Homo sapiens: one gene and its partners. The protein of the gene in region 2 purifies or fractionates together with the protein of the main gene of each other region. This does not show direct contact. Each region holds a gene or a part of one and is shown on either strand. Other genes may lie near its edges.

The links.
Region 1: the proteins of ZC3H3 (region 2) and BRIX1 purify together in Homo sapiens (affinity purification with mass spectrometry; 3 studies listed by BioGRID and IntAct, with this or other methods). This does not show direct contact.
Region 3: the proteins of ZC3H3 (region 2) and PABPC3 purify together in Homo sapiens (affinity purification with mass spectrometry; 3 studies listed by BioGRID and IntAct, with this or other methods). This does not show direct contact.
Region 4: the proteins of ZC3H3 (region 2) and DDX21 purify together in Homo sapiens (affinity purification with mass spectrometry; 3 studies listed by BioGRID and IntAct, with this or other methods). This does not show direct contact.

What each region holds. Positions count from the first base shown.
Region 1 is NC_000005.10:34,922,211-34,925,710, reverse strand, and holds part of BRIX1 (ribosome biogenesis protein BRX1 homolog), read right to left. Parts: intron 3,495-3,500; coding exon 3,424-3,494; intron 3,173-3,423; coding exon 3,123-3,172; intron 3,017-3,122; coding exon 2,943-3,016; intron 2,711-2,942; coding exon 2,660-2,710; intron 2,579-2,659; coding exon 2,477-2,578; intron 865-2,476; coding exon 736-864; intron 486-735; coding exon 216-485; 3' UTR 1-215. UniProt on the Homo sapiens protein: Required for biogenesis of the 60S ribosomal subunit.
Region 2 is NC_000008.11:143,461,448-143,464,947, forward strand, and holds part of ZC3H3 (zinc finger CCCH domain-containing protein 3), read right to left. Parts: intron 1-3,500. UniProt on the Homo sapiens protein: Required for the export of polyadenylated mRNAs from the nucleus. Enhances ACVR1B-induced SMAD-dependent transcription. Binds to single-stranded DNA but not to double-stranded DNA in vitro. Involved in RNA cleavage.
Region 3 is NC_000013.11:25,094,965-25,098,935, reverse strand, and holds the start of PABPC3 (polyadenylate-binding protein 3), read right to left. Parts: upstream 2,801-3,971; 5' UTR 2,738-2,800; coding exon 842-2,737; 3' UTR 1-841. UniProt on the Homo sapiens protein: Binds the poly(A) tail of mRNA. May be involved in cytoplasmic regulatory processes of mRNA metabolism. Binds poly(A) with a slightly lower affinity as compared to PABPC1.
Region 4 is NC_000010.11:68,980,170-68,982,868, reverse strand, and holds part of DDX21 (nucleolar RNA helicase 2), read right to left. Parts: intron 1,333-2,699; coding exon 1,288-1,332; intron 327-1,287; coding exon 57-326; 3' UTR 1-56.

The DNA of each region.
Region 1 (3,500 bases), on a different chromosome or scaffold from region 2:
AACACAAACTTCAAAAAGAAATCAGAAATTAACTGATGAATTCTGGTGATATTTTATTTAGAAAAAGATAATCACTGATTTTAAGATCTTAATTTTTCTTTCTTGTAAATGCTACACTAATTAGACGTAAGATAGTATTAGATAATAAAAGTATTTACACATTGAATACAAAATAAATATAAAGTAACTGAAAAACAAATCAGGTTTCCATTGACTTATTTTGTTTTCCCACTGTCCATCCTCTGTTTCATTTTTCTTTGCCTTTTGTAAATCCGTTTCTTTCTTGCTTTCAAATCAACTTTTGGCTCTGGTTTTACCCACTGTATTTCTATTGGTTTCTCCTCAGCTGGTGTTACAAAAACATCTGCAGTGGGATCATGTGGAAGAAGAGTCTTCGGCTCTTTCTTTCTCAGTTTTTGCACATCTTTCACTTGCTGTTTCTCTCTGTATTTTGCAGCTGTGATGGATCTTATGACACGCCGATGCTAAAAAAAAAAAAAAAAGATTAGATGCTTTTGAAATAAAAATAAACATTTTATATAAGGCAAAGACTTTCAGTTATGAACCATATATCCTTTCAGCCAGTGTCATGAAAAAAGGGAGTAATTTCCAAGTTTCTATGCAGCAAAAACCAAATTCAGTTTCACAGGTAATAAAACAGCAATTACTTCACAGAATCATTTTGGCCAAAGGGTTCTGGTACATTGAAGACTACTGAATGACACAACCGCTTACCATGTTTGGTGACTGGTAGTGAGGATTTTCATATAAAGTTGGTCCTCCAAAACTTCCCTGGAAAATCTTTATGAGATTTAAGACAAAACGAGGTCCTATTTCTACAAGAGCAGCATCTTCTTCTATGATCTTTAATAAAAAGGAAACATTTCATTTTGGTTTGGTTACGTTATTCCCAAAAGGTATACTGGCTATAACCTCATTATAAATGTGCCTGAAATAATTGATAATCCATAAAATCAAGGTGGGGGTGAAACTTGGTAAATGGCAAATCATCAATATTTTCTGAAATCTATTAGTACTTATAGGAAGTTGTCATGGAAAAATGTTTTTTCAGTGAGTTCTTTTAAAATTGAGTAATTAGATTTTGGTTCACATCTTGCTTGTCACAATGCATATATCCTTGAAAAACTGGTTAAACAGGATTTTAAAACAGTAACCACTATTAACAAAATGTATTAAAGCACATTATGGGGGAACTCTTGAAACTTAAATCAATCCCTAAATTGTTTTTATAAATCTAATTCAAGTTAGATTAAAAGGATATGTAGTCAAATTTATTTAATAGCTACTGATTATGGAATTAAAAGGCAACTTCCGAACAACAAATATTTATGTTATCTATTAGTTCAGGCATGTCTACCCTCAGAGGTTAGGATGATGTGTTCAACTCACATGCCAGGTATCCAATATAAAATATGCAGAAAAGAGCTCAGTTTATGTCATATACTGTCTAAAATTTTGTTCTTGCTGTTCTCTTCCACCTCTTCATCTTTCTGCACTTATCGTGCCAAACTCCTGCTTCAAGATTTCTAGAGTCACCTCCTCTTTTCTCCTGAATGAGTCACTGTGTGACTCATCATCTAACCGCTGCCATTGAATGCCTTCTAGAGCAATTACATTTTGCTAGGTCTTAACCTTTGAGGTGCTTTGAGAGAGAAACTTCTAAGCTTTGAGAGAGAAACTTCTATTTTACTGTATCCTTTACAGCACTTTCTACAAATTAGGAACCCAAGTATCTCATGGATCTTCAAGTTATTCCCTTTCTATAAAGTTAAATATATAATGGCTTATTAGGAAATCCATACTCTGTATCAACTAACAGTCATGAATAGAAGTAGGTAGAGCTCACTTAAGATATAAGACAGTACATAGTTACTTGCAGCAATCTCTTTAGGGAAAAGGAAGCTATTTAAAACAAAAGAATTATTTGCATTTTTTGTGTATGCAAACCCTGTATATCCTTATCTAAAAGTTTAACTAAAAATTGACCAGGCACAGTGGCTCACAACTGCAATCCCACCTACTCAAGATGCTGAGGAGGAATGATTTGAGGCCAGGAGGTTCAAGGCCAACCTAGGCAACACTGCGACACTCTATCTCTAAAAAAAAAAATTAGGCCGGGTGTAGTGGCTCACGCCTGGAATCCCAGCACTTTGGGAGGCCAAGGCGGGCAGATGGCCTGAGGTCAGGAGTTTGAGACCAGCCTGGCCAACATGGCGAAACCCCGTCTCTACTAAAACTACAAAAATTAGCCAGGCGTGATGATGGGTGCTTGTAATCCCAGCTACTCAGGAGACTGAGGGAGCAGAAGCTTGAACCCGGGAGGTGGAGGTTGCAGTGAGCCAAGATTGTGCCACTGCAGTCCAGCCTGGGCAACAAGAGCGAGACTCTGTCTCAAAACATAAATAAATAAACTCAATTAAAAAAAAGGTATAATTAAAAATCAAGTAAAGCTTACCTGAAAGTTCCGAAACCATATCCTATTATCCAAAATGGTGAAAGTAAACACGTGGTCCACAAATGGTTGGCTTTTGGGATGATACCGTGGTGTACTAAAGATCTAGTTAAAAAAGTGTATGTTAGTTCCTTATTCCAAGATATATCATGTATATTTTGGATAGCTAATTTTAAAGATATTTACCTGAATTAAGAGTTCTTTTAACAAAGCATAATGTGGTAATTCATCAAAAGCCTATAAAAATAAGGTAAGCATATTATTTAACAGTAGACTGCCTTGTTTAAAACTGTTTGCTCATTTGTTTCTATAACTTGGCTATAACCTCATTATAAATGTACCTGAAAGAATTGATAATCCATAAAACCAAGGTGGGGGTGAAACTAAATTGAATAACACAACTATATCTACTAAAAACAACCATGCCAGATAAGAAAATTAGACCTCATACACTGAATGAGAAACTTACAGGGTCAAAAGACAAAAGGGGCCGAGAACCTTTCAAACAGTTTCCAGTCATCTTCAGTTCAGCGAGGGTATGAACTAGAAAAATTACAACAAAAACAAAAATAGTTGTAACTTTTGCACAACTATTTCAAAAGATTACTTTTAATTTCCTCATCTAAAAAAATTTATTGAGTCAACTTACTATTTTGAACAAGGAATTTAGCAGATGGTCCGTGAGGTGAATTTGAAAGCCTGAAAGATATGGAGTAAGCTTTTTCAACTAATTAGCAAATGTAGTCAATGCTTACCACCTATTCACCATAAATAATATGCTTATAATATTTATACATTTAATTTTCTTTAAAGGTATCAAGTTTCGTGAAATCAAAAGTTTGCTTCATTCTCAACCCTTAACATGAAACACTAGGAGTCTATAACATAAAAGGTACAAAGAACAAATCCACTTAAATGAGTTTAACCAAAATCTTAATACATTCTCTTACCACATATAGAGATCCTGTTTTTTCTTAGCTTCAAAATAGATGCATTTATTACAGTTCTTCATTTCACAAACCTAAAG
Region 2 (3,500 bases):
ACCTAGAGTGACCCTGTAGCCCTGCAGTGACCCTATGGCCCTGCAATTCCACTCCTAGGTGTCTACCCAAGAGAAGCAAAAGCATCGGCCACACAAAGGCTGGAGCGCGGACATTCGAGGCAGTATTATTCACGACAGCCCCCAACTGGCAACCACCCGAACGGACAAAGAAAGTGTGGAGAGCCTCTGCAGCGGCTTGACTCTGTAATAAAAACGGGTGCAGCGCTGAGGTGCTGCAGGACAGACCTCCAAACATGATGCAAAATCAAAGATGCCAAACAACCATGTACTGTATGATTCCAGCAACACGAAAGGCCCACAGAAGAAACTTACCGAGACAGAAGTGGATGAGTGTTAGGGGCCGGGACTGATGATGAAAAGAGTGAGGGAATTCTGGGGGGCGATGAAAACAACTGAAAGCTGCGCTGTGGTGCAGCTGTACCACTCTAAGTTTACTCAAACCCACAGAACCATACACCTAGAGCAGAGGAATTGTGTGGGAGGGAAACTGTACTTCAGTTAAGCTGCTTTTTTTTTTTTTTTAAAGCTGACACCACAGATCAAAGGGTTAGATCACCGTTGAGGGAAAGCACCCACGACATGAAGAAAAACTAAGTGAGGCCCCACCTCACACAACACGCAAATGAAGAACAGCAAACGGCAGCCGACTTGTAGGGAGGCCTCCCTGTGCCAGGGCCACCCAGGACACTGCCAGGCCCACTGTGGCCCCCTGAAGAGTCGCCACGACCCTCTGAGATAGGCAGTGCCGTTATCCCGACTGTATATAAAAGGAGACTGAGGCCAGAGGAGGAAGTAACCGTGCAGGGACAAGCGACACCCACAGCTGCCTCTTGAGCCAGCATCAGGCAATGCAGGAGGCACTCTGTGACCATGGGTGGAGACTGGTCCTAAACAAGACCCCGAGCACAAATCACAGGGCAAAGGATGTCAGGACCTTGCCTCATAAAGGACGAAGGATTCGGCCTAACAAAGGGCAGCACTGGCGAAAGCAAGGCACCAACAGAGAAGCGCTGTATGTGAACAAAACCAAGACAGGCGCTGTCCAGAGGACACAGGAGCCCTTGCAAGCCTGGAGGATGAAGGCAGGGTGTGCGTGAGGGGAATCCCAGGTGACTCAGGTCTCAGCTCGCACTTGGGGAGCTGAAACCCAAGGCTCAGCCAGGGCCTTCCCTCTCCCGACAGCTCCCTGCAGACAGGCACCAACCACACACAGGGTGTGGGGAAAACGGCAGCGCGGAGGCTCACGGAGCAGGCACTGCAGATGCAGGAGGGCCAAGGTGTGCAGGAGCTCTCAATGCAGAGGTGGGGATGGAGTCACTGTCACCCCTGCACACGTGCACACGATGCTCCCCAGCCCTGTGCACTGGGGGCGCTGGCAGCAGCCAACACCCTAGCTGCAACAAGCACACGCAGCGCCCAGACCCTGAGTCCTAAACACACCCAGAAGGAACCAGGGCGCCCTGCAGGAGCAGCTGTCCCACCTAGAGCCACCAGGAGCAGCGCCCAGACCCTGAGTCTCTTTTTTTTTTTTTGAGACAGAGTCTCACTCTTGTCACGTAGGCTGGAGTGCAGTGGCGCAATCTCAGCTCACCACAACCTCCACCTCCCGGGTTCCAGCAATTCTCCTGCCTCAGCCTCCCGAGTAGCTGGGATTACAGGCATTTGCCGCCACAACCGGCTAACTTTTCGTATTTTTAGTAGAGATGGGGTTTCACCATGTTGGCCAAGCTGGTTTTGAACTCCTGACCTCAGGTGATCCACCTGCCTCGGCCTCCCAAAGTGTTGGGATTACAGGTGTGAGCCACCGCGCCCGGCCCAGACCCTGAGTCTTAAACACACCCATAAGGAGCCAGGAGCGGCTGTCCCAGAGCCGCCGGGTGCTGGGAGCATCTGGGTGCCAGAAAGCAAGCAAGGGTGCAGAAACTGTCAGGCACATCATAAGGGCAGGAGCCCTGGCAGGGCAGCATATTAAAAGGGGACGGCAATGGACACAGCCGGACACACCCGTGGACAAACAGGCGAGCGGTGAGCACGGAGGAGGGAAAACTCTTCCGTTCAAGGACGCCGGCCGCGGATCAGAATTTGACAGCAGACAGACACAGCTGGCTATTAAGACTAAGGGGAGAAGGTGGAGTTTTCTAGTCTCAGAGTCTCCCCCCAGCAAGACGTATCAGCCGGGGAGATCCCTTTGACAAGGATGGAGCGAGCGCCTGAGGCAAGGGAGGAAAACAGCGCTGCACCAGGACAGGGACGCCTACTGGGGAGGACTCTGCGTCTCCGGGTCTGGGCAGGACGTGGCAGACCCCGCAGGTGTGTACAAACAGGCAGTCTGAAGTCATCCCCGTCCTGATATCTAGGAGGGCAGGCGGCATCTGGCAGAGGTTGACCCCTGAGCCACAGCCGTGGCCCCCCAAAAGGGGAAGGAGCGGAGATTTACTCCCAGCCTAAATTATTCACAAGGAAAGGGAATGTGGCTCTTTAACAAGCCATCGCTTTATGAAGCAAGGTTAACAATTTCACTTGATTCAGTGGAATATTATAAACTCTCTGGGGCCCATTTGAGGACTTCTACTTCAGGCGCAAGGTGACGATTCAGCACTTTTCACATTATTTAGAGAATAAAATTAACCCTCGCAGGCCCGGGCTGCCGCCTGTCCCCGCTGGATCTGGCCGGCTCAGCGCTTTCCCATATATAATTACAAGCTGCTATCCATCATGCGGGCGCCGCGGCGCGGACACACGGAAAGGCAGCAGTAAGCACTTCCACTAATAGAAGCAGGACCTAAATATCACTTTGATATTTTCATTTAAATCGAAACATTTTACAATAATCAGCCATGGCCTCCATGGGGATCCTGCCACTGCCCCCACAGGGTCTGGGGCTGCCCCAGCCAGGCCCTACCTCCCCGGAGGGGATTGCCTGCCAGGTTTCAGGTTGGGGAGCCCGGCCTGGCCAACCCTTGGCCCGGCAGCAGGGGCTGCAGGCTGACTCCTCCTGGGAAGTGGGTGTGAGGACTGAGGATGAGGGAGAGGATGCTTGGGAAGGGCCCGGCCCACCACAGAACGCTGTGCACAGGAAGGAGTGCGTGGCCCAGCTTCTACAGGACCCCACAGGTGAACCCAGCAAGGGAGGGGCAGGAGAGCCGCCAGAGCTTCGGGCCCGGTGTCCTTGCGGGTGGGCTGAGAAAGGGTTCCTGGGGTGCCTGGTGTTCTCGGCTTCACGGGGGCTGCAGACCCTGAGGCAGCGCCAACACAAGTGTGAGGTCCAGGTGGCAGTGAGCCGTGCTGCAGGCCCCGGGGCTCCCTCCCAAGATGCCAGGGACAAGGAGCATCTCCAGGTCCCCCAGCTCTGGCCCCTCCCCAGCCTGAGCCAGGAGGCCCCCAGCCTCAGCCACAAGCCTTAGGCCAGGTGCAGGAGCCCCCAGGGCGGGGAGAGAAACAGGCGTGAGAGGCTGGGGTAGAGGGGGCTTGTACCCGGG
Region 3 (3,971 bases), on a different chromosome or scaffold from region 2:
ATTATTATTGAAGAAAATCAACTACCAGAAACACTAAAACCAAATGATTAAAAGTGATTATCTCTGTGATCAGAACCATGTTTAGCCTCCTGTTCAATTAGATTTTTAAAACTATGTATTTATTTTTTATTTAAAAATAATGCAGTATAAATTAATAATTGTCTTACAATTTTGAACAAATGTTACTGAATTTATAATTACTATTTTGTCATTGCATATTTTCATTTATGAATATTAAAAATAAACACTATTATGTAAAGACCTAAAATTTTGGTGAAAAAGTGATTTTCATATTTGAAATATAGTGGGAGATAGAATAATAGAAAATGTAAAGAAAGACTATTAGTAAAATTGATGATTTTTCTTTTTTTCACTGTTTAAGAAATTTTTATTAAAGCAAGAATTTTATAATCCAAACCATGTTTCCTTGCTCAGTTATCAATTCTGTTACTTAAAACAGAATGGACATTTTGAGCTATTCCACAGTAAAGAATTAAAAAATTAAAGGAATGCTTTAAATTTTTGTACTTTGCTGAAAATTCTTTTCCCAGGGTCTACAAAACATTAACTGGTTTTTGTATTTTACGATTTTTTGTTTTTAAATCAAAATTAAGTAATCTTTTTTTTGTTTTTAAATCAATAAGTAATCTAGGACTAGCATTATATTTGCTAGACCTTGCATTTGCTCGGTACATAAGGTTCAAAGTTTCCTTTCCATTTTTTATTTTAGATTTTGCATTTTTTATTTTAGATTTTGCAATTTTTTTTCCCATAGTTTCTCGATGTTTAGATATTTTTCTTCGGTGAAGCACAAATTTCTTTTCGTGGTCTCTGATCAATTTTAAACAGTTGGAACACCGGTAGCACTGTTAACTGCTTTCTGGGTAGCCTCTTTAGCTTGGTGGGCTTGTAGTACAGCTACAGCTTCATCAACCTTAGAACGGAGTGACTCTGGAGACTCGAGCATATAAAGAAGTTCTGAATTATCAATCTCCAACAACATGCCAGTGATTTTCCCAGCAAGAGTAGGGTGCATGGCTTGAATAAGAGGAAAGAGCCGTTCACCTAACATTTGCTTTTGCTTTTGAGGAGGGGCAGATGCCAACCTGGAGGCAGTCAAAGTTTCCTGACCTTGTACATGAACAGCAAGCTGTTGCATTGTAACTTGTGGCTGTGCATTACGATGTTGCTGAGGATTGCGAACTCCCGCAGCATATTTATACCGTGGAACCGTGCGCACAGCAGGGGTAGCTGCAGCAGCAGCAGCAGCTGCAGGACGTGGACCCACTGTCTGTGTTGATGTGTTAGCAACACGCTGCGTTGACATGACTCGTGGAACCTGTGAAGAAGCTGGTCTCATAGTACTAAATGGTACTCTAGGAGCACCTGGGCGGATAGCACTGGGCTTATTTTGGAATGGATGAGGTCTGGCACCCTGAGCAGTCCAGCGAGGACTTGGTCTTAGTCGAGCAATTTGGCTAGGAGGATAGTATGCAGCATGGTTCTGAGTCTGTGGGACAGCTGTCATGAAGTAACCTGAAGGAGGTGCTCGCTGGTTGGGCACAGCTCGTACACTTGCCATTCTCTGCATATACTCGTTAGTGAGGTAAGCCTGGCGCTCTTCTTTGCGCTGAGCTAAAGCTACATACAATGGCTTTGTGGCCACAATTCTACCGTTCATTTCTGTAACTGCTTTAGTGGCTTCTTCTGGGGAGGAGAAACATACAAAACCAAACCCTTTGCTGCGACCACCTTCCATCATAACCTTTGCACTAGTGATTGTACCAAATGGAGAAAACGCTTTCCGGAGACGTTCATCATCAATACCATCATCAAGATTTTTCACATAAAGATTAACAACCTGGTATCTGGTGATCCTATCTTGCTTCATCTGTTCAAATGTGCGCTTAAGTTCCGTCTGCCGTTCCACTTTTTTCTGAGCTCGACCAACGTAAATTTGTTTTCCATTGAGCTCCTTTCCATTCATCTCATCTACAGCTTTCTGTGCATCTTCATGCCTTTCAAAGCTTACAAATCCAAATCCTTTGGATTTTCCACTTTCATCGGTCATTACTTTCACACTTAAGGCGGGCCCGAACTTGCCAAAGAGATCCTTAAGGCGCTCATCATCCATGTCTTCTCCAAAATTCTTGATGTAAACATTGGGGAACTCTTTTGCCCTAGCTCCAAGTTCAGCTTCTCGTTCTTTACGAGACTTAAATTGTCCAACAAATACTTTGCGACCATTTAGGAGCATTCCGTTCATTTTTTTAATAGCTCTTTCAGCTGCTTCGTGTGTCTCAAAGTGTACAAATCCATAACCCTTGGAACCATTTTCATCACAAACCACGTTACACGAAAGGATGTTACCAAAAGCAGAAACTGTATCATACAGTGCTTTATTATTAATGGACTTATCCAGATTTTTAACGAATATGTTGCCCACTCCACTTTTTCGAAGTGATGGATCACGCTGAGACCACATGATGCGTACTGGCTTGCCCTTTATAACATCAAAATTCATGGTGTCCAGAGCATGCTCCGCGTCCTTCGTATGCTGGAAGTTCACATACGCGTAGTTGGAGGAGCCGCTGGTGATCAAGTCCCTGCAGATCCGGATGGAGAGGATGGGCCCTGCCGGGCTGAACTTCTCGTAGAGCATCGCCTCAGTCACGTCGGGGTGGAGGTCCCCCACGTAGAGCGAGGCCGTTGGGTAGCTGGGGGTGCTGGGGTTCATTCTCGGCACGGCTGCCCGCAGGCACACAAGCCGCGACCTTTCCGTTACAGGAGTAGAGCGCGTGCCGGGGCCGGGGGCGTAGCCGGAGGGAGGGGAGCGGGGGCAAGCGCAGAGGGACAAAAATCAGCCGAAATCGAAAACTACTCAACGGCCGCAGAACGGGGTCGATCCGCTGCCGCTGGCTGCCGGCTGCCGGCGGGGAGCCAGGGTAGCGGTGTCGGGTCCGGGCAGCAGGAAGGCCTTGGTCTCTTAGTTCCTTCTTGGAGCTGCTGCGGGGCCGCTGGCGGGCGGCTCGGGCTCAGCTGCTTCACCGGGTTATTTTGTAAAAGAGCATTAATGATTTTTCTAAAATGATTTTTATAATCCAAATTTAAAATGCCTGGGAAAAAAATAAATGAAAGAATTTTTTTCTCCTTTCTCCTTTAGTATGTTTTTATATATGTTCTACTTTACACAAATATATTTTTATAAAATATTTTCTACTTTTTACCTCGTCTCTACTAAAATTACAAAAAATTAGCTGGGCTTGATGTGCTCACCTGTAATCCCAGCTACTCGGGAGGCCTAGGCACGAGAATCGCTTGAACCCGGGAGGTGGAGGTTGCAGTGAGCAGAGATCGCGCCACTGCCCTCTAGTCTGGGTGACAGAGCGAGACTATCTCAAACAAACAAACAAACAAACAAAAAACCCCGAAAAACCGACTTTTTATATTATATAACAATATAAAACATAATAAATATGTAATTTTATTTTTCATTTATTTATTTTTATTTTACTTATTTATTTTTGAGACGGAGTTTTGCTCTGTCACCCAGGCTGGAGTGCAGTGGTGCGATCTCGGCTCACTGCAACCTCCACCTCCCAGGTTCAAGCGATTCTCCTGCCTCAGCTTCTAAAGTAGCTGGGATTACAGGCACCCACCACCAAGCCTGGCTAATTTTTTGTATTTTTAGTAGAGACGGGGTTTCACCATCTTGGCCAGGCTGATCTTGAACTCCTGACCTCGTGATCCACCCACCTCGGCCTCCCAAAGTGCTGGGATTACAGGCGTAAGCCACCGTGCCCGACCAATAAATATGTAATGTTAATATAGTATTATATGATATAGTCTTTTGAGGTCAGGTTGGGATTCATTATTAAGTATACGTTTTATGATTATAAGTACACAATCTTGTGACCTAATATAGCTACACATCTAAGTAAGTGATGATCTGAAATAATTCTATTTAAGAA
Region 4 (2,699 bases), on a different chromosome or scaffold from region 2:
AGTTCTATATTGCCAAACATCATTCTCTTTTTGCTATATAAATCTTCTATTTCTAATTATTGACCAAATGCTTTACTGAAACTCCGCTTCTGGCCTTTGTTTTGGGATCTGTTACTTTTGTTGCCACCTCCTGATCGCTGTCCTCTCGGGCCTCTACTGCCTTCCCGCTGTCCTCTGAATCTTCTGTTTCCGTCCCGCTGTCCCCTGAAGCCTCGACTGCCTTCCCGCTGTCCCCTGAAGCCTCCATATCCTTCCCGTGGTCCTTCCAGTTCTGGTTGCTCTGTGGCCACAGAGAGCTGCCAGCGTCGTGAATCATGCCATTTCTCCTGTTGAGAGAATGTTTTGTTTTTGTGTGCTTTAATTAGTATTCAATTTTTAAAAAGCATGAGAAAAACAAAATATTTGCCACTTCTTCAAAGAAAAGGTGATAACATAAGTGCTTAACAAGTCACTGGTCAAAAATAACACTGGCCACCCATCATGGTCCAAAAGCCAGTGTCCCTGAAGTGTGGGAAAACACAGTTTCATTATGAGAAATAGCCCTCATCACTACTTCATTTATTAAGTTATTAAACCATTTATTCAACTCAATTGCTACAGGGTATCTACAGCCAAAGGTAATAAAACAAATATATTAAGCACACATTTCTCACAGTATTGAATAAAGATGTAACAATTTTAAATGTCTATGAAAACCTGTAGGCTGGACGTGGTGGCTCATGCCTGTAATTCCAGCACTTTGGGAGGTGGGTGGATCACCCGCGGTCAGGAGTTCGAGACCAGCCTGGCCAACATGGCGAAACCCCCGTCTCTACTAAAAATACAAAAAATTAGCTGGGGGTAGTGATGGGCCTATAATCCCAGCTACTTGGGAAGCTGAGGCAAGAGAATCGCTTGAACCCGGGAGGCGGAGGTAGCAGTGAACCGAGATTGCACCACTGCACTCCAGCCTGGGCGACAGAGCGAGACTCTGTCTGAAAACACACACACACATGCACACACACACACACACACACAAAATCTATATACCATATATAAGTGTTAAAGGGTGGGGAGAGCTGGATATCGTTCACAACTTTGTATAAAGGAAATATAGAAACCAGGTGGGTTCAACTACAAAAATATCAGAATTAAAAAGTTAGGGGGGAATATTCCAAAATTTAATTATCGATTATCTCTTACTAAAGGAACCAGAACTATTGTTTCCCAATCTATTATTCTCTATTTTCATAATTAACATTCTACAATTTAGGTATGTTAACTTTAAAATCTAAGGGAAAAGAATACCTGTATTTCTGTTACTGATGCGGTAGGTACATCAAAGCAAACACCCTAGAAATCAAAGCAAATGGAAGTTAATCCAACCAACGCACATGAAAAATACTCCCTTTAAAAGACCACGTATTCTTTAAAAAAAAGAAAACAAAAAACATAAAGCAAAAAAACCACCAGGTATAATTTTAGATGAACTTTAGACCAAAGCTAATACATTATAGCTGCCAAAAGTACACTGCAGAAAGACAAGGAACATTGAAAAAAAGAACCCCAAATGATTTAGAACTTTCTAACTATAGACAGAGTCTTAGCTATTACACTGTGCTAACCCCCTAGTGGCTATTAGCTACATTTTATTGCTGAGCAAACAGGCTTGGAAAGGTTAGCTGACTTGTCTAAGGCCCCACAGCTATTAAATGGCACAAGTATTTAAAATCTAGTCTGTATGGCTCTAAAACCTATAGTCTAAACTATATACTGCCTTCCATCAGAAAAGCAATGCCAGCTATTCAGAATGACCTAATTAAAAGCAGAAAAACAAGTGATCTTCTATTGTTGATTTTCTGGTTTTTCTTAATTCAGCCTTCTGTAAGAGTATGAAAAAAATAATACAGGACACCATCTTTTTTTTTTCCCTCTTAAGATAGGGTCTTGCTCTACTGCCTAGGCTGGAGTGCAGTGGTGCAATTAACAACTCACTGTAACTTTGAATTCCTACAGGTGCATGCCACTACATCTGGCTTTTTTTTTTTTTTTTTTTTGGTAGAGACAGGGTCTCACTACATTACCCAGGCTGGTCTCAAGAATTATCTTCCCAGCTCAGCCTCCCAAAATACTGAGATTACAGGTGTGAGCCATGGCACCTAGCCAGGACACCATCTTTAATATTAAGTGCCATCCTCTCCAATCAAGGAAATCGTCTAAAAATATAGTCAAACTATGTGTTAACTAATACAGGCACTCCTCTCCCTGCTGTCTTCAACTGCAATATTTTATAAGGAACACCCCTTTCACCCCAAAATTTACCCAATCATAACATAGGTATCATCACCTACTGGTGGATTTTGCCATTCATGGGAATCTTCGCTTACATATTTACGAAGTAGAGTATAATCCCAGGCATTCACTGGGTATAGAGGTAATTAGAAAACAGTTTTTGCCTTTGAGTGTTCTTGAGGCTCTCCATTAGCAAACACAGCAAGGTAAAAGTTTACCTGCATAAACATGTGTCCTAAAGACTCTGAAGTACAGATAAAGACGCCCCTAACATTGCCTGGTAAGATTTAAGGCTAAGCAAAGTCATAAAAGCTACTTTGGAGGAAAAGATTTATATATATATAAAATTTTTTTTTTAAGACGGAGTTTCACTCTTGTTGCCCAAGCTGGAGTGTAATGGCGCGATCTCGGCTCACCGCAACCTCTGC